6 separate regions of the Homo sapiens genome follow, and regions 1, 3, 4, 5 and 6 are each reported to be linked to region 2. Evidence: microRNA targets listed by miRTarBase, many of them from high-throughput screens and not tested one by one. Region 2 holds a microRNA gene; each other region holds the end of a gene's coding sequence.

The links. Region 2 holds the annotated microRNA hsa-miR-4430 (AGGCUGGAGUGAGCGGAG, at 1,820-1,837, shown strand). A microRNA usually pairs through its seed, bases 2 to 8, with sites in the 3' UTR of a target mRNA and lowers its output. Matches are read on the target gene's strand: a 7mer-m8 pairs with bases 2 to 8, a 7mer-A1 pairs with bases 2 to 7 and ends in A, and an 8mer does both.
Region 1: the mRNA of FANCC is a reported target of hsa-miR-4430. Seed matches in the 3' UTR shown: 7mer-m8 at 2,836-2,842.
Region 3: the mRNA of FAM9B is a reported target of hsa-miR-4430. Seed matches in the 3' UTR shown: 7mer-m8 at 1,253-1,259.
Region 4: miRTarBase lists ANKRD9 as a target of hsa-miR-4430. Seed matches in the 3' UTR shown: 7mer-m8 at 1,049-1,055.
Region 5: the mRNA of UBN2 is a reported target of hsa-miR-4430. The part of its 3' UTR that is shown has no 7-base or 8-base seed match.
Region 6: the mRNA of TSHZ2 is a reported target of hsa-miR-4430. The part of its 3' UTR that is shown has no 7-base or 8-base seed match.

What each region holds. Positions count from the first base shown.
Region 1 is chr9:95,097,840-95,101,914 of GRCh38, forward strand. FANCC (FA complementation group C) reads right to left here. Exons shown (of 15, transcript NM_000136.3): 15 at 1,215-4,011. The coding sequence ends at 3,868. It also overlaps a transcript of AOPEP not described here. Among named protein-coding and RNA genes, the nearest start is that of MIR3074, 14 kb to the left of the region's middle. RefSeq lists an enhancer at 3,820-4,075.
Region 2 is chr2:33,416,700-33,420,790 of GRCh38, forward strand. It overlaps MIR4430 (microRNA 4430), which reads left to right and starts at 1,817; the gene lies at 1,817-1,865.
Region 3 is chrX:9,021,894-9,025,984 of GRCh38, reverse strand. It overlaps FAM9B (family with sequence similarity 9 member B), which reads left to right. Exons shown (of 9, transcript NM_205849.3): 8 at 402-501; 9 at 608-1,753. The coding sequence ends at 470. Among named protein-coding and RNA genes, the nearest start is that of FAM9B, 10 kb to the left of the region's middle.
Region 4 is chr14:102,503,692-102,507,782 of GRCh38, reverse strand. ANKRD9 (ankyrin repeat domain 9) reads left to right here. Exons shown (of 4, transcript NM_152326.4): 4 at 1-4,091. The coding sequence ends at 847. Among named protein-coding and RNA genes, the nearest start is that of ANKRD9, 4.0 kb to the left of the region's middle.
Region 5 is chr7:139,296,985-139,301,075 of GRCh38, forward strand. It overlaps UBN2 (ubinuclein 2), which reads left to right. Exons shown (of 18, transcript NM_173569.4): 18 at 803-4,091. The coding sequence ends at 852. Among named protein-coding and RNA genes, the nearest start is that of TRR-CCT4-1, 42 kb to the right of the region's middle.
Region 6 is chr20:53,256,009-53,260,099 of GRCh38, forward strand. It overlaps TSHZ2 (teashirt zinc finger homeobox 2), which reads left to right. Exons shown (of 3, transcript NM_173485.6): 2 at 1-563. The coding sequence ends at 555. Among named protein-coding and RNA genes, the nearest start is that of TSHZ2-AS1, 250 kb to the right of the region's middle.

The sequences.
Region 1 (4,075 bases), not on the chromosome of region 2:
AGACATGTTATGTACTTACTGTATCTTAATTTTTGTTCTTTGGTTGTAAAATGGCTTAGCGATGATTAATGACTTAGGATTTTTCGACAAAATCTACGGATTTCCCAACATTTGGCAGAGGGAAGAACTTTAGCACCCGAGCCCCCGGGCTGGGGGAGGTGGTCCTGGGCTGGAAACAGAGGAAGAAAAAGGCGAGGGGAGAAGCACGGGGAACTGTTTCTCTTCTTCCTTGGAAAGCAAAAAAATTTTGGATTCCTTGTTGAATAAGGAGAACATTCCTCACATTTGCTCCCACTGTGCAAATCCTCCAGTGCATCCGCCGTCCTCTGGGCAGCGTAAGGCCAGGCTCGGTTTTGACTTCCCAGCATTTTGGGTGGATTCACTCTGCCAGGCTCACCAAGGTCCCTTCTTCTCTGGCTTCCCTGTCAAGACCCCATTCGTAACTTCTCCACTTCAACAGAAAACTCGGCTTCCTCCCATCCCCTGGACTAGCTCCCATTTCTGTCCTAGCTCCCATTTCTGTCCTAGCACCTTGTCCCACCACTTAGACACCAGGCAGGACAGGGTGAAGAACAAACCACGAAACCCTGCCAACCATGGCTGCTCCAGTGAGAGGCTCCTCAGGAGTGTCTTAGCATTTCCTGTCTGCTCCCTCAGGCGCCCTCCTGACCCCGAGAGGGGCCCTAGTGTCCCATAGCCGGAAGCATGGGGAGTGCTGGAAACCCCACTGCAGTGGGGGTCCTGGGGGTGGCCACGGCGCTGCTCGCCTTGGCCGCATCACTCATGCCTCCCAGAGGGGCCTGTGGGGCTGGAGGAGGGGACAGCAGCCTGTGAAGCAACGGAGCGAGCAAGAGTGGGTGGGCTATGCTGGTGGGACGAGGCCTTCAGCTTCAGGGATCAGGGAAGAGACAGAACAATTCAAGTGAGGCTTATGGTCAAGCCTGGCTTAGAGAAAACACAGATATGAAACGCATGTAACCTGATCTTGGCAGGCCCTGCCAGATGCCTGCCCTTGTCCTCCTGCTTCCTCCTTGGTGACAGGACCCTTAGTTTTTAGGTATTTAGTAGCAAGGTTCCCAGGCCCAGAGGCTAAGCCATCCTCGGTCTCTTCCAGGGCACATCTAGGTTTCCTGAGGCCCGAAGCTTCCACTGTCTGGGGCCATCGGGGGAGCTTTTTCCTGAGAGAAGGATTGTAATATTTAATGGATACAACATTAGGTGCAAACTGAAGTTTTATTTAGAATGAAAAAATAGACAACAAATTACAGATTTTAAAGAGCTAAAAAATTCCACAGATGTCACGGAGTCCAGGGGAATAACAGCCTGGTTGGAGGGGCGCTCTCCGCCTCTTCTGTATTTTTGGCTCTCTCTGAGGGTAGTGGTTTTACCAGCATGCTTTATCAAAAACTAAACTATCAGGGAGAGTCTACAAAAACTCCTGCTAGAGTAAGGTCAGATTCCAGACCCTGTCGCACCTCTGAAGACCTTGGTCCAGTTCCTTCCAGGGTGGCTTCACGCCTTGCCATCCCTGCCTCCCTGCGGCTGCCCCTGTGCCCAGGCCCCGCCAACGCCGTCAAGGCCCCCTCGGCCACGCCGCGTCCCCGCCCAGCATCTCGGATGCCATTCCTTCCCGGTGGCACCTGCCCAGGCTTTGCCGAAATCGAAGGCAACAAGAGGGGGAGGTGGGCTTAAGAGTGCCTGCCCGGCCGCCACCTGTCTTGGAGGTGGAGGGAATGGCCGAGGGGTGGCTCCCCCAGCTCCCCACCTTTGAGCATCTCTCAGGCTGGGAAAGGGCAAAGGGCCACATGAAGCCAGCAGGCACTTCAGTGCCACGTCCCCAGAGGGACAGTCCTCCCACCCAGGAACCCCTGGCTGCCCAGAAAGCACCACCGGCAAGGCCGCCTCCACCGCACCCGTGAGAGGACTCGGCAGCTGTGAAGGAACTGGGAGATTCTGCAGATGGGCCGAGGTCAGGGCTTCCAGGCTAGGAAGAAGTCTTCCAGATGCCTAGCTTCACCAGTCCCAGGAGAAGGAAGGAAGGGGCATGGGCAGAGGCCTGGCAGGGGAGGAGGAAGAGGCCAACCCTGTACACAGGACCACAGGACAGGGTGGAGGACTGTCCCAGGAGTCCCTCCACAACAGGAGGCCTGGTCCCAGTGGCCCCTCTCTCTAGGGGTTCCCTGCTGCCACCATGTCCACAGAGGAGTCACAGCTTCCATGGCCCAGCCACAAGTTCTGGCTTAAAGTCAGAACAGGAGAGAGGCCCTCAACTCCAGTGAAGCATGCAGCTCCTTTTTCAACCCCAACACCTCTGACGAAGCATGTTTGTTATATGAAGGCAAGGATCATGATGGCACGAAGCATGTTATATGAAGGCAATGACCATGAGCACGAAGCATGTTATATGAAGGCAATGACCATGATGGCAGCTGCCACCAAAATACTTTACCAGCACACCCTTCTGACTGCAGCATTTCTCAGAAGAAAGGCTCAGGTGAAAAGTTCCTGGAATTTTCCAGATCTTCAGTGGATCTATTAGCATTGCCACATACCAAAATAAGGAATTTCCCTAAAGGTTAACTTCTAATCCAGCAAAACTTTGCTCATACCTCAAAACGGAGCCAAGACTCAGACTAATACACACAAATCAAAATGGACAAAAGCAAGTCTTGACTCACTTGACAAACAGAATAGACACAAAAGAATGTACAACCAATACAATTCCAGAATGTCCCTGAAAGGAAAAAGCACCCTGTACTGACATGAAATAAATGTTAACCTTGAGATTACACTAACAATGCCTTTTTTTAAGAGATGGTCTCGCTCTGTTGCCCAGGCTGGAGTGCAGTGTCATGATCTCGGCTCACTACAACTCCCACCTCCCGGGTTCAAGAGATCCTCATGCCTCAGCCTCTTGAATAGCTGGGATTACAGATGCATGCCATTGCACCCCGATAATTTTTGTATTTTTAGTAGAGATAGGGTATTGCCATGTTAGCCAGGCAGTCTGGAACTCCTGGGCTGAAGTAATCCCCCTGCCTTGGCCTCCCAAAGTGCTGGGATCACAGGTGTGAGCCACTGCACCCAGCCAGGCCAATTCTTTATCAGGAATTTCCAATTCCCATTTCCATTTAACAAGAGAACTAACTAACTGAATTAATCCTGCCTTCTAATGTTTCTGGAACACATCCTCTACCTTCGCCTGCCGGCTCCTCTGATGTCCCAAGGGCCTTTTGGTAGCAGTTAGCATCATTTAGCAAATACAGAGTGGAAAGAGTGTGCCGGAGGCCCGGGCTTGGGTGTGCTGTCTGCTCCTGTGGCCTGTCAGGCAGGTCCAGGGAGACACAAGGGAAGCCTGAGGGACCCTGACTCCCCTTGAAGAATTTCTCCATACAGCAAGACAGTGTGGCTTTATCCCAGATCCCTGACTCCTAAAAAGAGTCTAAAAAGAGCTAAGTTCTCTCTAAATTCTTTAATGGTTCATGACCAAATTCTTGGTTCTAAGACTTTGAATTTTTAAATAATAGATGTGCAGCTTGACTTGGGTAAAAACTAGAAACCTGTTCTCCCACCCAGGCCTTTGCTTTAGTAATTATCAAGCTGACGGTCTGGCCGGGCGGGCACCAGGAGTACCGAAGGCTCACTTGAGTCATTAGTGAACATGTCTGACTGAGTCTGGGCTGAGGGACCTGGCTCTGCATTTTGTAAAATAGATACTAGCAGATTGTCCCAAGATGTGTACAGCTCATTCTCACAGCCCAGCGAGGGCACTTACTCCACAAATGCGTGGCCACAGGTCATCACCTGTCCTGTGGCCCTGGCGAGCCTGATCCCTCACGCCGGGCACCCACACGGCCTGCGTGCCTTCTAGACTTGAGTTCGCAGCTCTTTAAGGAGCTCTCGGGCCAGTTTTTCTGATCTAGGGCTTTCAATGCCAAGACGATTCCATCTGTACAAGGTCTGGTCAAGAAAGCCAATGATCTCGTGAGTTATCTCAGCAGTGTGAGCCATCTGCAATCAGGACAGAAGAGAAGGCAAATTAAAACACTTTCCAGACAGATTTGTCCTTTGTCCA
Region 2 (4,091 bases):
ACAGGCAAGTTCTCGCTATGTTCCCCAGGCTAGTCTTGAACTCCTGGGCTCAAGCGATCTGTCCATCTTGGCCTCCCAAAGTCCCGAGATTTCAGGAATAAGTCACTGTGCCTGGCCCCTTCCATACTTTTTTCTCCACAGGATATCTTGAAATCACTGGGACTTGGGCACTGTCATTATAGCAGTTAGCATACCCTGACTGAGAGAACATCAAGAACAAGCTTGAAAAGTTTGGGGTCCTGTTCAGCCACATCTCCCCATTCTGCACTTCTACAAGTGGCTTTTTGAACCTCAGTACAAAATTTTACCTTTGCTCCTATTAATTTCTCTTCTGTTGTTGGTCCCTTTCTTTAGCCTTATGTTAAGATGTTTTGAGATTCTGATTCTGACTTCCAGTATGGTTGCTGTCTCTTCCAAGTTGACATACACTCTCCATCTTTATTCAAGATATTAATGTAACTATTAAGAAGGATATCTCTTTAAGACAAAAAAAAAGTGCAATACAAAAAAACAACTTCCTTTTGCTGAGTTGCTGAGCCCCTTGTGAGGCTGACAATGGCAGGATGGTTTAGTCTGTCGTCTCCAGAGGGTTTCCTGCCAGGGGACTTCTGGATTTCAGGATCGGCCAACATGAGTCAAACAGCTCTTGGAGCTCTTTATTCTCAAACCTTCTCTGCAAATCAGAGCTGGAGATTTCAGGATTCCCTCCCCACATTCCTCATGACCAGTACCGCTCCCTATTTTCTCAATTTTTCATGAGTCCCTTCAAAGAGAAATAATTTAAATAAAAAGTCTTTCCCAGATTTACCTTTTGCTGATTTTCCATTTTTCCCAACTAGGCAACAAGACTTCATTTTGTTCACTGATGTGTCACACAGAGTATTTCAAATAGTTTGAAGCCAGAAGAAGCAAAAAGGGAAGATGCTAAGAGGTCACCAGGGCCGGGCGTGGTGGCTCATGCCTGTAATCCCAGCACTTTGGGAGGCCGAGGCGGGCGGATCACTTGAGGTCAGGAGTTCAAGACCAGCCTGGCCAACATGGTGAAACCCTGTCTCTACTAAAAATACAAAAATTAGCCGGGTGTGGTGGTGGGCGCCTGCAATCCCAGCTACTCAGGAGGCTGAGGCAGGAGAATCGCTTGAACCTAGGAGGCAGAGGTTGCAGTGAGCCGAGATCACACCACTGCACTCCAGCCTGAGCGACAGAGTGAGACTCCATCTCAAAAAAAAAGAAAAAAGAAAAGGCAACCAGGTTTCTGTTTTGGGGGGCTACATTGAAGAAATCCAGTGTTTCCTACCTGCTTTCCATGGTGGCGGCGGGGGGGAAATCTGAATGAAAAAAGAGATTAGATCCATCCTTGAGCATGGTGGGTTTGAGGTGCCTGGAAACATCTACACAGAGATGCTGAAAGTCCATGAAACTGACTAGTCTGAAGCTGAGAAGGCGGACTGGCTTAGTGCTCTGCAATGTGCAGATAGAATATCTATGGATACTGAGTCAGGGCTCTCACAGTGTTGGTCTCAAGGCAATCCTGGTCCTTAGAATAGACATGGAAAAAGGCACAAGGCAGAAAAGGCCCTCTTTCTTTCCATGTCTATCTCCCTCTATGATCATAGACAACATGCGTTAAAAATCATATTATAAGCTGCTCTTAGAACTTGATCGCTTCAGCTCACAAGTTCAAGGCAAGTCTCGGCAACATAGCAAGACCCCATCTGTACGAAACATTTTAAAAATTAGCCAAGCATGGTGGCATGTGACTGTCATCCCAGTTACCCGGGAGGCTGAGGTGGAAGGATCACCTAAGCCCAGGAGGGTGAGGCTGGAGTGAGCGGAGATCGTACCACTGCACTCCAACCTGGTGACAAAGGGAGACCTTGTCTCAAAAAAACAAAACGACTCCCACCTCCAATAAAAAACCCTCATCAACCCCAAATCTAGACAAGTAATGTCCACTTTTGCCTGAGATTTTTTTTTTTTTTTTTTTTTGAGGCAGAATCTCGCTTTGTCGCCCAGGCTTGAGTGCGGTGGCACGATCTCGGCTCACTGCAACCTCCACCTCCCAGGTTCAAGTGATTCTCCTGCCTCAGCCTCCCGAGTAGCTGGGACTACAGGCGCATGCCACCATGCCTGGCTAATTTTTTGTATTTTTAGTAGAGACAGAGTTTTACCATGTTAGCCAGGATGGTCTCAACCTCCTGACCTCACGATCTGCCCACCTTGGCCTCCCAAAGTGCTGGGATTACAGGCGTGAGCCACCGCGCCTGGCCTTGCCTGAGGTTTTTAAATCAGCTTTACCCATCCTACTGACTGGGGGAGGGTAGCGGGTAGGTGGATGGGTTGATAATTTCCACCTCCATAGCAATCACCCTAAGCCTTCTATCTTGTTCCAGTCCTACTCTTATTTTGCTTATGTCTCTGCCCACCTTCAACCTCCTAACTTTGTGGTCACTCTTTCAAATTCTGTCTGTGGTCTTTGCATTTGGTATTTGAACTTGATCTCCCTGCTATTTGAACCTTCAGTTACCCCCAACCTCAGTTACCATCATAGATTTTTCTTTGGAAGAAATACCTTTTATTAGTCAGGATCCATTCAGCAGACAGAAGCCACACCAGGTAAAGGAAAAGGAAAATTTTAATATGAAGAATTGCAACTAGGTAAAAAGCCATTAGCTAGGTAACTGAGAAGGGAAAAAAGATCTCTAAAGTATCACAGAGGTAAGTGGCAACTGCAGTCATCAGCTACCACCCTTTCAACTGAGGGAAAAGAGGGAAGAGATTGGAATTATTAAACTTGGAAACGTAGAGTAGGAGTCTTGGAGACTCAAATTTTCTGAGGAGTTGGTACTGGCTGGCTGGGGTTAATGTCTCTGAGTGGGTACAAAGGAGCGTGTTTTATAAATGGGACAAAATTGAAAAGCAGATTCAGCTGCTGCTGTGAGAAGGCCGTGCCTCTGCCCATTTGAAGAAGCTTTGCTCAGGTGACATCACAGGAATAAGAAGTAGACAGGAGGCAGCAAATTCTCTCTTCTTCCTCCAGCCTTGCAGGCTCCCTCTACCACCCCCTAAAGAGCCTGAAAGGTATCTGGCTGGAAAAATAGAAATGTCGTTTGCAGTTTCTGTCCCAGCAACCCAAAGCGAGGTATAGAAGTGTATTTGAATTTGAAAGATAATAATGCTGTAAGGTCACTGTTTCTGACCTTAGCCAGCTCCCACTCCTCCCCAGCTAATTACTTCCCACTCCTGCCTCCAGTAGAGAATGACATATTTACCATTCATTTCCCACTGTGTTCTCCAAGTCTCTGCCCTTGCCCTGGCAATTGTAAGCAAATTGTTACTATCACTTTCCTTTCCTGATTCCACATTACTGCATGAGTAAGTTACAGTGCTCTTCAAGCAGGAGTCCACCTTGCTCTTTCAGCATGGTGAAGACAGATGATCTGCCTTACAAGCAGCTGCAGATCTTTTCCTTACCTCGAATCCTTTCTTCAGAGAAATTTGGAGGTAATTCCGAGTTTCTCTTGGGCTCCCTTCAGCAGCTTCATTTACTCAGGCTGTGGTCTTGTTATTTAATGTTGCATAGCAAATCACCCTAAATTGTAAAGGCTTGAAACGAGAACAAGCAGTTGTTGTCTTTTATGGTTTCAAGGCATCGGAAATTAGGAAGCAGGTTGGCTGAGCTGGGTTGAGGTCTCTCATGAGGCTGTAGTCACGTGGTGGATGAGGCTGGGGTCATCTTGAAAGCTCTGGCACCTGGGCCGGGAAGACTCAAGAAGCTGGGGATAGGAACAACTGGGGCTCCTTAGGTATCTGTCTACTTATTTAGACTCTCCAAGTGGTCCTTTTCAGAGTATCTTGATTTGTACATGGAAGCCCATGCCCCACAGAGCAGTTCTCCCCAGAGAAGCCAGGAGAAGCTGTATGTCTAACTTCACTCAGAATTATCCTCACTTCTGCCACATTCTGTTCATCAAGGCGGTTACAAAAGCCCACCCAAGTTCAACAGGAGGGAACATAAACTCTACTATTTGATGGGAAGAGTGTCAAAGAATTTGCAAGCACTTTGAAAACCACAAGCGGCACCTCTGGCT
Region 3 (4,091 bases), not on the chromosome of region 2:
CCATTTTATCCCTTCAATGGAAACCATGTTATGTAGGCTATTGCTGATAATACATGGGTCGCTACCTGCTGAAAAAAAATATAATATTTCATGATATAAGCCTGCCCGTCTTTTTCTGTCTTCGCTCCATCTTGACCTTAAGATGTTCTTCAACCCATTTTATTTAAGCAAAGTACATGACTGTTAGACCTGCTAAAATAATATGTCACTGAAATCTGGCATTAAAAAATTTAATTGGGTATTTGGAGCTCCATGTATTGATTATAGTTTTTTCTATTTGAAATGAATAACTGGCATCCTTTGAATATTAAAAGCTGTTTCCTTTTGACATTTAATTAACCCTGTTTAAAATGCGAGATATAAAGTGGTGGTTTGTCAGTGAACTAGACTTTTTCTTTTAGGCTCTTGAGGACTTTGAAGACCTTTGTGACAGAGTTTTTTCCGATGAAGACAGTGAACTTGATAACTAGACATGTTTTTAAATAAAATCATGTCAGAACTGTAAGTAGTGCATATTTAATATTAAAAACTCAGGATTGATGTAGCACTGGAATATTTTATTTGCAGAAATGTGTATTACAGTTACTTAAATTTTTTTTTGAAACAGCTTTTGGAAAAGTTGGCACTTACCCAGTTGTCTCTTCAACCTCTGTTATTCTGATGACTGAAGAAAGAACTTGAACCTATGTTATATGATACAAGCACAACTTGAGCTACAGTAAACTACATGACAGTGTTTTGATAATTGTTGTATAAATCGGTATAGCTCCTCTGTCACTCGTCTGTTAAATGCCAGACCTCGTTTCTATGATCTGTTGAATGAATCCTAGACACTTCTGTGAGAAAGCAGGGATTGCATAGTTATGTACACGGTCAATTAAATTTTAACATTAAAGATAATTTAGATTTCGATTTGGCCTCTGTGGATTTGTATCAGTTCCAAAAATGTAGAAAGCACAGGCATAGAAAAGTACATTTTTCTCTAATAAAAGAAGACAATATCTGCTGGGTGTGGTGGCTCACGCCTGTAATCCCAGCACTTTGGGAGGCCGAGGGGAGTGGATCACTTGAGGTCAGGAGTTTGAGACCAGCCTGGCCAACATGGTGAAACCCCATCTCTGCTAAAAATACCAAAATTACCCGGGCGTGGTGGCACGCACGTGTAGTTCCAGCTACTCAGGAAGCTGAGGCAGGAGGATCTCTTGAACCCGGGAGTTGGAGGTTGCAGTAAGCCAAGATTGTGCCACTGCACTCCAGCCTGGGCGACAGAGCAAGACTCTTTCTCAGAAAACAAGAAGAAGAAGACAAAAGCTATCTTATCTGTGCGTTCTTTTGTATTTACTCATTAGGATAAAGAGGCAATTCCAATGAAAGTAGGACTTCAAAAAATAGATATACTCTATGGCCATATCAAAATTATTAAAAGCACCTTACTGTCTGTGTTCTTAAAAAAAATTATACTGCTGTAAATGATTAAGGCAACTGAGCAAGATATATTAATATCAGTGCTGAGCCACTGGTTTGTGGGTATGTCATTTCCACAGACATCAAAATGCTATTTAGTTTGTTTTGGTCCATCATTCAATGATACCTCCCCTTAGAATTGAATGAAAGCATTTTGTTAACATTTATGTATGCTTACAATTATTTCACATCTGTGGCAAGGTAAATTTTGTAGAGTGCTTTGTTTATCCAGTTTAATATTCGTGGATTATGTGGAAGTTTATATGGACATCTAAAAACTTGAATGATGAATTCGCCTGCCTTTCCTTTTTTTAATGTGCAGTTTTCACATGTAACAACATATAACAAACATGTAAAAAGATTTTTTGCATGTAACATGTTAAAAAGATGTACATGTTTTTACATGTAAAACAATTTTACATGTAACATGTAAAAAAAGAAATGTTCATTTGGAAACACTTTATTTAGTAAATATGAAATTCAGAATATATATGGAGTAAGTGAAGTAAATGTATTCTTTTGCCAAGTTTCTGAAATTCCATTCATGAATCCTTCAAAACACAGTACTCCCATTGGGAGGAGAGGAGTGACTTCCTCTCATTTTTCCTCGTGCTATTTATGTTAATTGGCCCCTGTATACCACTCACCTTTTCTGGGTTTTCCAAGTTTAAGAAAAAAAACAAGTTCATTCAGATTGTGTTTTTCTGCCTGCAGTCACGTATACAGCAATAAGTGAGTCCCTATGGGGAGCATTTAATTCCTAAAGTTTGCATTTTCATAAAGGATTTTCCTTTTACCCAAAGCGTGTGTTGGTACTACTAAGTACTATGAAGTACTACTTTAAGTTTCTAAAAAGATCCTTATTTGAGATCTCTTTCAGTAGTTACAGAGCCAAAATAAGCACTGCAGAGGTCCATGTCTGAGTTCTGTTGTACATCCTGGGTTATCTGACTACTATTTACTCTATAGTGGAAGGACAAGAAAGAGGCCACAGTGTACTTAATGATGGAACAGTTGATGTTTATGCCACCCCTTACTACCTCAAATGAGTAACTGTGTACTTGAAGTCATATTATTTTTAGAGACCAGGTGTCGCTCTGGCCCAGCCAGAATGCAGTGGTACGATCATAGCTCATTGCAACCTTGACCTCCTGGGCTCAAGCAATCCTCTCACCTGAGCCTTCAGAGTGGCTGGTACCACAGGTGTGTGCACCACATCCAACTTATTTATAATATATTATATATTATATATTATACATAATATATTATATATTATATATTATACATAATATATTATATATTATATATTATACATAATATAATATATATTATATATTATACATAATATAATATATATTATATCTTATACATAATATAATATATATTATATATTATACATAATATAATATATATTATATCTTATACATAATATAATATATATTATATCTTATACATAATATAATATATATTATATCTTATACATAATATAATATATATTATATCTTATACATAATATAATATATATTATATCTTATACATAATATAATATATATTATATCTTATACATAATATAATATATATTATATCTTATACATAATATAATATATATTATATCTTATACATAATATAATATATATTATATCTTATACATAATATAATATATATTATATCTTATACATAATATAATATATATTATATCTTATACATAATATAATATATATTATATCTTATACATAATATAATATATATTATATCTTATACATAATATAATATATATTATATCTTATACATAATATATATTATATCTTATACATAATATATATTATATCTTATACATAATATAATATATATTATATCTTATACATAATATAATATATATTATATCTTATACATAATATAATATATATTATATCTTATACATAATATAATATATATTATATCTTATACATAATATAATATATATTATATCTTATACATAATATAATATATATTATATCTTATACATAATATAATATATATTATATCTTATACATAATATAATATATATCTTATACATAATATAATATATATCTTATACATAATATAATATATATTATATCTTATACATAATATAATATATATTATATCTTATACATAATATAATATATATTATATCTTATACATAATATATAATATATTATATCTTATACATAATATATAATATATTATATATTATACATAATATATAATATATTATATATTATACATAATATAATATATTATATATTATACATAATATAATATATATTATATATTATACATAATATAATATATATTATATATTATACATAATATATATTATATATTATATATTATACATAATATAATATATATTATATATTATACATAATGTAATATATATTATATATTATACATAATGTAATATATATTATATATTATACATAATGTAATATATATTATATATTATACATAATGTAATATATATTATATATTATACATAATGTAATATATATTATATATTATACATAATGTAATATATATTATATATTATACATAATGTAATATATATTATATATTATACATAATGTAATATATATTATATATTATACATAATGTAATATATATTA
Region 4 (4,091 bases), not on the chromosome of region 2:
CTTCTACCAGGCGGTGCGCGACCTGCTACCCGTGTGGCTGCTGGAGGATATGCGCGCCAGCGAGGCCTTCCACTGGGACGAGCGCGGGCGCGCCGCCGCCTACTCGCCCTCTGAGGCGCTGCTCTACGCGCTCGTGCACGACCACCAAGCGTACGCGCATTACCTGCTGGCCACGTTCCCGCGGCGCGCGCTCGCACCGCCCAGTGCCGGCTTCCGCTGCTGCGCGGCTCCCGGGCCGCACGTGGCGCTGGCAGTGCGCTACAACCGCGTGGGCATTCTGCGCCGCATCCTGCGCACCTTGCGCGACTTCCCGGCCGAGGAGCGGGCGCGCGTGCTGGACCGGCGTGGCTGCAGCCGCGTGGAGGGCGGTGGCACGTCGCTGCACGTGGCCTGTGAGCTGGCGCGCCCCGAGTGCCTCTTCCTGCTGCTGGGCCACGGCGCCTCGCCCGGTCTGCGGGACGGCGGCGGCCTCACGCCTCTCGAGCTGCTGCTGCGCCAGCTGGGCCGCGACGCCGGGGCCACTCCCTCCGCCGCCGGAGCCCCCGCCTCAGCTCCCGGGGAGCCGCGCCAGCGCCGCCTGCTGCTGCTGGACCTCCTGGCGCTGTACACCCCCGTGGGTGCCGCCGGCTCGGCCCGCCAGGAGCTGCTGGGCGACCGGCCGCGCTGGCAGCGGCTGCTGGGTGAGGACAAGTTCCAGTGGCTGGCGGGCCTGGCGCCGCCCTCGCTCTTCGCGCGCGCCATGCAGGTGCTGGTCACCGCCATCTCTCCAGGCCGCTTCCCCGAGGCCCTGGACGAGCTGCCGCTGCCCCCATTCCTGCAGCCGTTGGACCTCACTGGCAAAGGCTAGGCCCGGAGCACCCTAGGCGCTGGATTTTGGGACAAAACTATTTTTCAGAGCGTTGTACCGGCACTTTATATATATTGATCTCTGTACGGCACAATCTCTGCCTCATCTGTCGCATGCACTGGGGGCTGGGCTTGGATGGTCAGGTGAGTTCCAAGTGGCAGGTTTTCTGGGTGCAGCTGGGCTCGGGCCTTCAGCTCGCTGTCCAGCCCCTGAAGGGAGTGAGGACTAACCTCCCACCTTGATCTAGAGCCTCGGACAGGTGTGCGTCCCAGATGGGTGACAGCTGAGTGCCGCAGGAGCTCGGTAGGTGCAGGGGTGGGGACTGGCATGTCCAAGCAGCAGGACAGCGTATAAAAAGGCCTGGAAGCCAAGAGAACGAGCTCTGCAGCGTAGGGTTCTCACGGGAGGTCCTGTGCGGTCAGCCTTTTGCACCCTGTGGACTCCGGGCCAGGGAGGGCACACAGGGCTGGCAGGCCCGCGGTGGCTGGTGTTGAGGCATGAACAAATTGTACCGGGTATCCCCCACCCCACTCTGACCACCAGTTCCTCCTTGGATATCACTCCCCCTGACAGGCAGCCCACCCAGGCCTGGATTTGTCCCTGTCTCCCCCTTTTGCTTTTCCCCCATGACTAATGGGCACCAGGTCTTGCTGCTCCTGCTTCTCACCTCTGCAGTGGCAGCAGGCCCCTGGCCCCAGGTGCATGCCGGTCAGTGGGGTTGGATGTGCCTTCCTCCAGGCCTGCCCTCTGTCCAAGCCCGGAGTGGGCTTGGTGGGCTCCCTGGTGGCCCCCAGTGGGTGCCAGGTGGTGCCCGGGGTTATTGAGGGGTGGTTGTATCACTGTAGGGACAGGCTTCTTGCCCCAGCCTGGAGAGCTGTTTTCTTCAGGAAGGTTCTGGAGATGGAGACTTGTTTGCGAATTCACCACAACTCCAGGCTGGGAGGCTGGGTCTCCGCTCTCAGAGCCGAGACACCAGGGAGGATAGCCAGGCTGCCCTGCCTGGGAATTCTGCTGGGCCGTCAAATTCAACCCGCACCAACGTGGGCAGGAGGGCCACAGTGTCCTGCCAGGAGCAGAGGGCTGAAGGTCTGCAGGAGGAAGAACCACTATCCTGGTGGGGGGCACCTGCTGCCCACCCTGCCCCCAGCGTGCCTGGGGGGAGCACACCTGGGCATGGAGGAGTCCAGGGTGCTGGGCCACACAAGAGAGGTGGGGGAGAGGCCTGGACAGTAGGAAGATCTTGCCCAGGGTCCTGGATCCGCCACTCTGGGGGTGACCTTGGACAAACCTCTGCCTTGGCCCTCAGTCTCCCCATCAAGGTTTTTCCATTCAGGAGGTTTTGGGCCATCTTCAGCCACCCTACCAGCCCTGAAAAGGATGTGACTCCTGTTTCTGGGAAGTGTGTGGTGTGTTAGGTGGGCCTACAGCCCTGGTTGTGGGGAGGGAAGGATGGAGAGACAGCACAGTGACAGAGCCCAGACTGCAGGCTGGAGTGAGGGTTCCACTTCCCCGCTGCTGTGTGTCCTGGACCAGTGCCTCTGAACCTTGGCACTTGGGGCAGTGGATATTAACATCTTTCCAAGCCCAATTCTTGGGGCATCAGGGCCTCCGGTCCTCTGGGAGGTGGCAGGTCCTCAGATTGGAGATGCCATGGGGGGGGGAGGTGCCTCTCCTTTGGAGGGTATGGAAGTGGAGACAGGAGTGGCCTGGCGCAGCTGCCGTGGTTCTTAGGGGCTGGGCCCGGGGAGCCCATGGGGCTTGTGCCTAGAAAGCCTGGGCTCCTCACTGGGGTCTAGATGTGCAGACTTCATGTCTCCCCAGCTCCAGCTCTGTTCTCTATAGGTCAGCCTCCACAATGCCAGAGGCCCAGGGCTAGCCCCCTCCACGTCCCTCCTAGATCTACAGCTGCCCCTTTGATGACAGCGCCATTGAGTCCCCTGGGCTGGGGGGGTCATGCAGGGGTGAGGCAGCTGCCTGCCGCCGGTACTCATTGCCTGGCCAGGCAGGACACAGGCTGGCGGGCACTGAGAGTGGGCCCCACGAAATCCATTGTCAGGTTACCAGGATGAAGAACCCAGGCTGGTCGTGGAGTGCAGGGCGGGGCCTGCCGGAAGAATTATGGGCACTGCAGCAGGAGGGCAGCCTGGGCCATTAGCTCCTGATGTCATCGATTTGGGTGAGGGGACAGGGAAGTCAGAGGAAGCTGGCCAGTGGCTCTCACGAAGACTTACAGCAGCGGAGTGGTGCCTGATTCCTAGTACAGCTGCTCCCACTGAGTCTCCAGGGATCTGTGGTTCAGGACCCCCTGCAACCCCCTCCCAGACCCCTGTACTGGTGGGAGGAGAGGACCTAGAGGAAAGGTGCTGGGCAGATAAGCAGCCGAGGGAGGCCCTGGGTTTAGCTTATCAGTCTTCTGGGCCCTCCTGCCCCAGGAAGGGCAGCGAGGACCATGGTGTTGCCCCTGTCATCGTTATCGTCCTGGCCATGAGCTTGCAGGACTGGGAGGGCCGGAGTCAGCCAGGCAGACGGCAGCACAGCATTTGCCTGTTGGCAGGTGGCCTTGGTGGCTTCCCAAAGGCAATCGCTCCACGCAGAACAAAACTCACTTTTTTGGGGGGTGAAGCACCTTGGTTCATTTGTTTAGTTCGTTAATTCCAGCAGTCTGTTTCTAAGGGAAACATGGCTGCAGCCGGTCCTGCCCCTCCACCCACCCACCAGGTGCCCAGTGTTCCCAAGGGCCCCGAATCCCAACCTTATTCAGGCGTCAGCATCTCTGCACCCCAAATGCCTGTTAGGGAGGATAGTGAAGGCTGAGCCCTCCTGGGCTCATCAAAAGCCAGCAGTGAGAGAACACCCCCATCTCTCTGAGGTGACCTTGTAGGGCAGTCCGTGCTGTCTGGCTGGCCTGGGTGAGGTGGGCAGGGACCAAGGCCTGGCGCCTGGGCCTCGCTGGCCTTGCTCTGCGTGCTGACTTCATCCTGATAGTACCTTGATTTTCCTACTGTGACTTCCCCTTCTGTCGACTTCCTCACCAACTTTAAAATTCCGTATTGAGAGCAGTTTCCTAAGTTACCTCAAATCCTATTCAGAAGAAGGTTCTTCCTGGAAGTTGGGAGGGCGGAAAACAAGTTTAGTCACAGAAGACTACTCCATGTTTGAGCTTCTGTTTCAAGGGAAGTGAGTAACTGCCGGAGGAGCCCTGCCCCTCTGCAGTGTGTGGTGTTGCCCTGATACTTTTCAGATT
Region 5 (4,091 bases), not on the chromosome of region 2:
GGAGTTTGAGACCACCCTGACCAACATGGTGAAACCCTGTCTCTACTAAAAATACAAAAATTAGCCGGGCATGGTGGTGTGCGCCTGTAATCCCAGCTACTCGGGAGGCTGAGACAGGAGAATTGCTTGAACCTGGGAGGCAGAGGTTGCAGTGAGCTGAGATCGCGCCATTGCACTCCAGCCTGGGCGACAGAGCGAGACTCCGTCTCAAAAAAAAAAAAAAAAAAGGAAAGAGCCTTGTCCCAGTAGCAGACTTTCCTGTCACTTAAAGCTAGGTTAGAATGAGCACACACTCAGCTGGATGTTTTTCACTACAGATGAAAAGTTTGCTACGTTTGTTTACACAAATAATCAGGAATTATGAAATGCTGTGTCCTGGCAAGAAATTTTATTTCACTTACAAAAAAAAAAAAATGAAATTGACCTGTCTTCCAAAGGAGTTGAAAGATGTAGTGGGTCCCTCGGAGGTAGGAATTGTGTCTTCTGGTTCCTTTATAACCCTCTCACAGCATTTGACACAATTGGCTGGGACGTAAATGATAAATACTTGTTGAAATCATATTTAAAAAACACTGAAAACCACAGTCATTTGAGAGAAGAGGATCATTGTTGTTGAGTTTTTATCTCCATGATGTTTTATCAACCTCTATAATGCTATATGGCATGCAAGATATTAAAAGTGATATCTTTTCAGAGATGTCATCCACAAAAGATAAAAGTTAATTGTTGTTTTTGCTTTGTTTTTGTTAGCTGGTTTTTGTAACATATGGACCCATACCAATTTAACGTCTCTTTTTCTCAGATGGAGGCCAAAGTAAAGGGGACACTAAATTACCACGGAAATCTCAGTGACTGCCCAGCAAGCAAAGGAGACGAAATGTTTAGTTGACTGATGGAATCTACCTGATGGGAAAGTACTTATGTGGTCATAGGGCTGCTGTTTCTGTCGATGTTTACATTCTCTCGTCCCAAGCACTGTGGTGAGGAGGAAAAAGAAAAGAAAACATTACTTGAGCAAAGCCAGGTGCAGGAGGAAGAAATGCTTTTGTGCAAAGTTAGTGACCTTTGGTCTCTTCTAAAGAATGACAGAGTTACCGTATTAACAGACTTGAAAGAGACTCAGTTGTCAAACCCACAGAAATACAAATTTGATTTTTCCCGGGGGAGGAAGAAGGAAGTGAAGAGAATTTGGGTAAACTCCATCCATCCTGGGGGTTGGATCTGAACACTTACAGACATAATTGGTAATAAAAGGCATTAAAAACTGGAATTAGGCCAGTTTGTCAGGAATAATGATCATGTCTATTTGAATGGACTGTGTAGCAGATTTGCCACAAAAAGAAATAATAATGATTCTATCTCCGATAGACAGTAGCTGCATAGCACACCCTCGAAAATCCTGAACAAACTTGAATCTCCTCCAGTGTGTAGCAACTTCCCTCAATCAGTGGACTAAAGATCCTTCAGGAAAGTTATTTTAGCACAGTGATATATATTATTAAATCATCTAGATTTTTAAAAATCAGGAAGTTGAGCCTGTTGCTCTTAAGAGATGAAACCTAGATGTCCCCTTTTTGTAAAAGGGTCAATTTCATCTTCCGTTCAGAAGCAGGTACTTAACTCTTTTCTTCAGGTGATTTGTGCATCTAGTATTGACTGGTTAATTCTTATTTCCATTCTTGATGTTAAAATGTGACTGTGTTCACATTTTTCTCCTGAGAAATGGGGATCTTTACAGGGTTATTGCTTTGCTGCTTTTAGCCCTTGCAGCAACATAAACTCTAAGTTTCCCCAGTTCATCTAACTTCACAACTTCTCCTTCTGTTCTTTTAGCTAGTGGTCCTTCAGGTGATTATTAGCTATTGGTATAAACAGGTAGAAGTGTACACTATGTTTCTTCATTGGTCATTCAAATGGCATGAATATAGTTTTTGAATTTTTAAGATGGTATTTTAAAGGGAGGAATCACATTAGGATCACAATCACGACATATTTTTACTCCCTGTATCCAGTGTAGTGAAATTGTTTGGAGCATTTGAGATCCTAAAGCTTCACTATTTACTCAGTGTATTGGTATGTGAGTAAATCTGCAGAAAATAAGACTCCTTAGTTATTATAGCTTCCTTATGCAAATAGCATATTCAACAAAGGATGTTAAGGGAAAAATTTATGGTTCTCCTTGGATACATTTGATTTGATGGGTTTTTTTGCCGCATTATTCTAGTTTTTTAAGCTTCTGAATATTTTCATACTATATCAGAGAATGGTGTAAACTCTAAATGGTATAAGCTTCATCCATTTATAATGACACTAACCTAAAAAAAATAGACTGGTAGTGACAAGATTTATTGCATATGTGTTTATTATACATTACCCTATACCATTAGATTTACTCAATTAAGAGTATTAACCAGGCCCTTTTTTCTTTTATACACAAAAGTCCCAGATACCCTACAGGACTGTGAATAAATAACCACAGATCGGTTCAGATCTGTATGCCTATATTTTGACTTCAAAGTCACATTGGCTTGCTTCATAGCGAAAAAGTTAATAAATAACTGAAAACTTTAGTTCCAAGAACTTGTTACAGTAAAGGGAAAGGATTATTTCAAAGGAATCACTGATATAATTTCTTGACTCTAAGAATTTAGTTTATCAATAAAACAAATATGGATGTAGTATGAACCCCAGTAGATATTTTGGAAGGATACTGGGAGGATGTTGCAGAGAGGTTTGACTTGAATTCAGTATGTTTGATGAAGATTTGCTTGGTTTCAATTAAGGAAGCTTGCCCAATTTTTTTAATTTTTTCAAATGTAGTGGACCTCTTGCTTTTACGAAATATGAATAAAAAGGTCTTTGCTTCATACTAGGGGAAGTGATGGGATTTTCCTTTGGGAAGGTAGCCTTTGTTTTACTTCTCATACCACAAGAGAAGTCGAAGTGCGTATTAATTTCTCTTCCTGAATACTTGTATATATGTTTGTCTGTATGTATATATACATACACACATACATTCATATAAATGACTAGTTTGAGTCAAAAAATCATTTGAATTTCTTAAAACCATCAATTCTGAATCATGCCATATGAAGATCCCTGGTGACTGTCATCATTAGAAAAGAACAAGATAATCAGTTCTTTTCCCTGTAACATTTTATACTAACCAGTAAAAATATCTGAAGGCCCTTGGCTCCAAGAATACAATGTGGAGATTCTTCTGTGTTCTCTTTAGTCTTGATTCCTTGAGGACTACTGTCAGATCCCTACCTTAAACCCCCACCTGCACTGACGACTTACATTCATTTCAGTCAGGACCCCCCTTTTATGTTGTATGAATCAGTCAAACATCGTTGTATTTCTGTATAGATAAAGTATGATCAGAGAGTTTCTACATGTAAATAGTAATCTATTTCTTTCCTAGATCATAACATTGAAAAAGGTGCCCATACTTTATGGTCACCTGTCTTTACCGTTTTTATTACTAAAAACAAACATATAAATTGGTTATTTTTTAGCACAGAGACTTGTGACTCATACTGTATTTTTGCACTTAAAAATCAAATTATGTTATTTTTTAAAATGGTGAGTCATTGGAAAGGATATCTATAGAGCAACGTGTATTTCTGAAGAGCATTAGCAACATCCAAATGCAAAAATAATCAGCACACATGATTATATCCCACTCCTTGGGATTCTTGATTCAGGAAGATTAAGCTGTTTGTTTTCAACTGTTTTATATTTTAAATTGCCTTCACTGATATATAAGCTGTTACTGTACATACAAGTTAATCCTCAGTATTCACAAGCAATAACAGTCAGCAGGGTTGTCCTCGGAGATAGCTGTGCTGAGCCTCAGTTGGAGACTGGGAGCAAAGTGTCAAGCTCATTCAGAGCATCCAGAATAAATGCAAGCAATAATTTCCATTATAATTCAATTATAATTCTTGTATGCTTTTGAGGTCAGAGGGTAAATGAAATCGTGATTTTAAAACAGCCTGAAGAAAAAGGTTTTGGGAAAGGAAATGAGGCTAATCTGTAGTCATAAAATTCTGATACTTTGCGGAAATTAGAAGATGGTGATAGTGCAT
Region 6 (4,091 bases), not on the chromosome of region 2:
CAGCATCTTCTGATTCTACAAGCCCAGTTTGCCTCGAGCCTCTTCCAGACATCAGAGGGCAAATACCTGCTGTCTGATCTGGGCCCACAAGAGCGTATGCAAATCTCTAAGTTTACGGGACTCTCAATGACCACTATCAGTCACTGGCTGGCCAACGTCAAGTACCAGCTTAGGAAAACGGGCGGGACAAAATTTCTGAAAAACATGGACAAAGGCCACCCCATCTTTTATTGCAGTGACTGTGCCTCCCAGTTCAGAACCCCTTCTACCTACATCAGTCACTTAGAATCTCACCTGGGTTTCCAAATGAAGGACATGACCCGCTTGTCAGTGGACCAGCAAAGCAAGGTGGAGCAAGAGATCTCCCGGGTATCGTCGGCTCAGAGGTCTCCAGAAACAATAGCTGCCGAAGAGGACACAGACTCTAAATTCAAGTGTAAGTTGTGCTGTCGGACATTTGTGAGCAAACATGCGGTAAAACTCCACCTAAGCAAAACGCACAGCAAGTCACCCGAACACCATTCACAGTTTGTAACAGACGTGGATGAAGAATAGCTCTGCAGGTATGGGTTTGCTCTGAGGCATTGCGATTAGCCTGGTGAGGAGCTTTCTTACAGGGAGATGGGTCTGCTTAGAGGCAGCTAGCATCTCCCAATGCCAAGCAGGATAGTAGCTTGCTGGAGTAGGATTTATTTTAATGAAAGACCAGAACATGAAAACTAAGTCCTAATCATTCTCTTAAGTCCTCTAGTTTAGAGCTGGGAACTAGAATAAAACGGGTTTAGAGAGATAAAGTTCACAGATTACTACTGCTTTTTTTAGGCCTTCATCATCCATAATCCTGAATTACCCAAGGCAAGCTCCAGTGTCCAGCCAAGGCTATCTTTCATTTTAATTATTAGATACTAACTTCTGTCACCATTCCATTTCACCACCCCACCTTTCCATAGCAATGCCAATGACTTATAAAGTGACAAAAAGTTGAGCAATGGAAGAAAGATTGGAGAGTGCTAGAAGTAGTTACTATATAGAGATTCCTTAATCAGCTCATGAATAGCTTAAAGTTGTCTTTATGATTGTTACTTGTAATGAATGCTTTTTTGCAGCTTACTTTTAGTAATTGCCACCTTCCACCTCTTCCCTTTGGTTATTTTCTACATTAAGTGTCCTATGAATGAGCATGTGCCCTTAACAGGTTGGTAGAAAAATATTCTTCTTTGCAGAACATTGAGATGAAAAGAAGCTTATTTTCTTCTTTCATCTTTTGGTTTTCTTGTGGATAGACCAGTATTAGAGCCCACCTTTAACAAAGATAGAGGCAATGTGTGCCCTTGAGGTTTCATTTCACATAAAGAAACAAATGGCTTTCTGTACACTTATGTTAATGTGCATGGAGTCCCATAGCTTGAAGATAATGTGCATCATGTGTCATAGAAGTTCCATGCCTTATATAGTCAACCATGCCCAGACCATTTGTGTCATTTTTAGGAAACAGGGCAGAGACCAAGGTCAAATGCTTTGGCAGATTAGTTTCACCAGCCATTTTCAAATGTTGAGGATAAGCAAGGCTGGGTCTTAACCAATCTCTTTCATTTGCCCATTTGTGTTTTCTCTACTTCTTTTTCTCTCCCTTCCAGCATGATGCCCGCATACACTAAGGGCCCTCCTATGTGTTCAGGTGGTCCTCCACCTTCGGCCATTCCCCAAGATGGGAACCCAACCTGAACTAAACCTTCTGTGCTGACCAATCCAGTTGACGTCATGTTAAGTTACGGATTTGCTCCTAGTTAATTAGCTCTTAATTCACGATCGAATATGAAAAACTAATAACATATAATCGCTCACCACACCCTATTGTCAGAGCATTGGTTTACAAATAGAAGACTTTCAGAACAAGCTAGAAAGGTAGGACACTAGGAGAGTTCCAGGTAGAGAGCGGTATTTACATGGCATGGCTTTGGGCTTGCCTCACATCAGACAGAGGGGTTTACTGGGTGTGAAGATGGCCAAGATGAAATAAAAAGTTAAAATATCTGACCTGGGACTTTCCCCTGAGTGAGGCGATCTACGCTTCTGATGGAGAGGAGTCCTCCTATAACTCTAATTGCTATCTAGACCCAAATGAAGACTATCTTTTTGGTTTGCATGTTTTTATCATGATGATTGAATGTGTTATTGGCAGATTCTTCTCATTCTTTCCAAGCATGATTTGTTCAGCTCACGGAATTGAAAGAAAAGCCAAAATGCATCCATTGAATTCACACCTGAGCTTGGGGTTCAACAGCGTCCTATTTATTTGCTGCATAACATTTTAAATCTTAAATAACTTGCCATTATGTTTTCCTGGTTCTTAAAAAAAAAGAGGGGGGGCATACAGAGAATACTTAGAGAGAAGAAAGATATTTCAAATCCAATAGTGGTGGGTTGAAACCATGGTGAAGAGGACAAATAGGTAATATTTATTTGTACTATAACAAAGACCACTTTTCCACCTGTTAGGTTTGTAATCTTTTTTAGAAAATTAATATAATTGCCAAAACACTCTGATATGTAGATAGGGAGAGGTAAGGAAAAGAAAGCTTGATCCATCGTCAGTCAGAATCTGGAGTGTATGATACCTGTTCTAGGGATTCAAAGGTGAACCAATAATTTGGAAAAACATATACAAAAGGTACTTCCAAATCCATTAAATACATAGATAAGATAGCCATTTTGGCACTTCTCTGCATTTGTACAGGATGAGTATATCTAATTTGGACCTCGAAAGCACCGTATTGGTGTTTTCATTATACAAAACCAAAGCTCCATCCTTACAAGCACCATTAGGCTGTGGTTCTGAGAGGATTGCAGAAAAACAGGTTTGAGTGTTTGGGACTCACTCAAAGCCATGGGCGTGTATGTATGTTTTGTAAACAGAAAAGATGGTGCAGGTACTGGCTGTGTTTGTGTTCATCGTAAAAATACTCCTATCTGCCTGAATGTTTCCCCCATCTGTACAAAGGTCGATTCTTGGTGCTTTGGTCACCTTAGAAAAAAATGCCTCCACCCCCGGGGTCCTCTTTTAGAACAATATTTATGCAATACCTTGCCCATTGCTTAGAATGATGCATGTAAGGTTTCTAAATGGTCATGAAATGACATCACTGTTGTCTGGAACTCTAATCTTAGTTGTAATGCATAGTAGCACAAATTGTGCAAAGTGACATGATATTTTAGAAAGTATGATCAAGATTTCTTGGAAACTATGAGAGCTTTAACCTATCAATGTTTTTTGAAAGACACAACTTTTGATCTGAATTTTCTTTCCTTTACCAGATATATCTTAAATCCTGCAAAATGCTCTGCCAAATATTAAATGCAACTTTTCGTTAAAAATTTCATTAGAAAATATTAAGTGTGCATCTCTATTTTAGGTCATAAGTAATCTAAAACAATTTCAATATGTATTTGTATATAGCTTTAAAAGCCACATGCTCTTGACTAATAGAAATTAAACAGAGAGCAAATCAATGAGTCTGAAATGCATAAAGGCTTGAAATTATAGTCATCACTGTGTAATATAGTGTACAAGCTTAACAGCACACCTAGCCTTGAAATTGTTGGCAGGAAAGTATTCTAGTCCAATGAGCTGCCACTTCTGTTGTGGGCGGCTTGATAAAAACACATATTCAGGGTGAAAAGCGCGTAAGGTTGCCAGACAAAATACAGAACGGATGTCCAGTTAAATGTGTATTTCAGATAAATGACAAATAGGTTTTGAGTATAAGCCTGGCCCAAATATTGCATGGGCCATACTTATATTTTTAAAATATTCATTGTTTATCAGAATTCAAATTTAACTGGGCATCCTGTATTTTTATTAGCTAAATCTGGCAACCCTAACAGCATAGATTATATGGCAGTTGGGAAGAACAAAATAGCCTGGACAAATTAATATCTATTAATGGCATCAACCATTCCTTCCTCCATTAAATAAATATTCCTTCCTTTCATCCTCTTTTCCCTCCTTTGTTCCTTCATTCCTTCCTCTTTCCCTTCTTTCCTTCCTTCCTTTTTTCTTCTTTCCTTCCTTCTTTTCTTCCCTCCCTGCA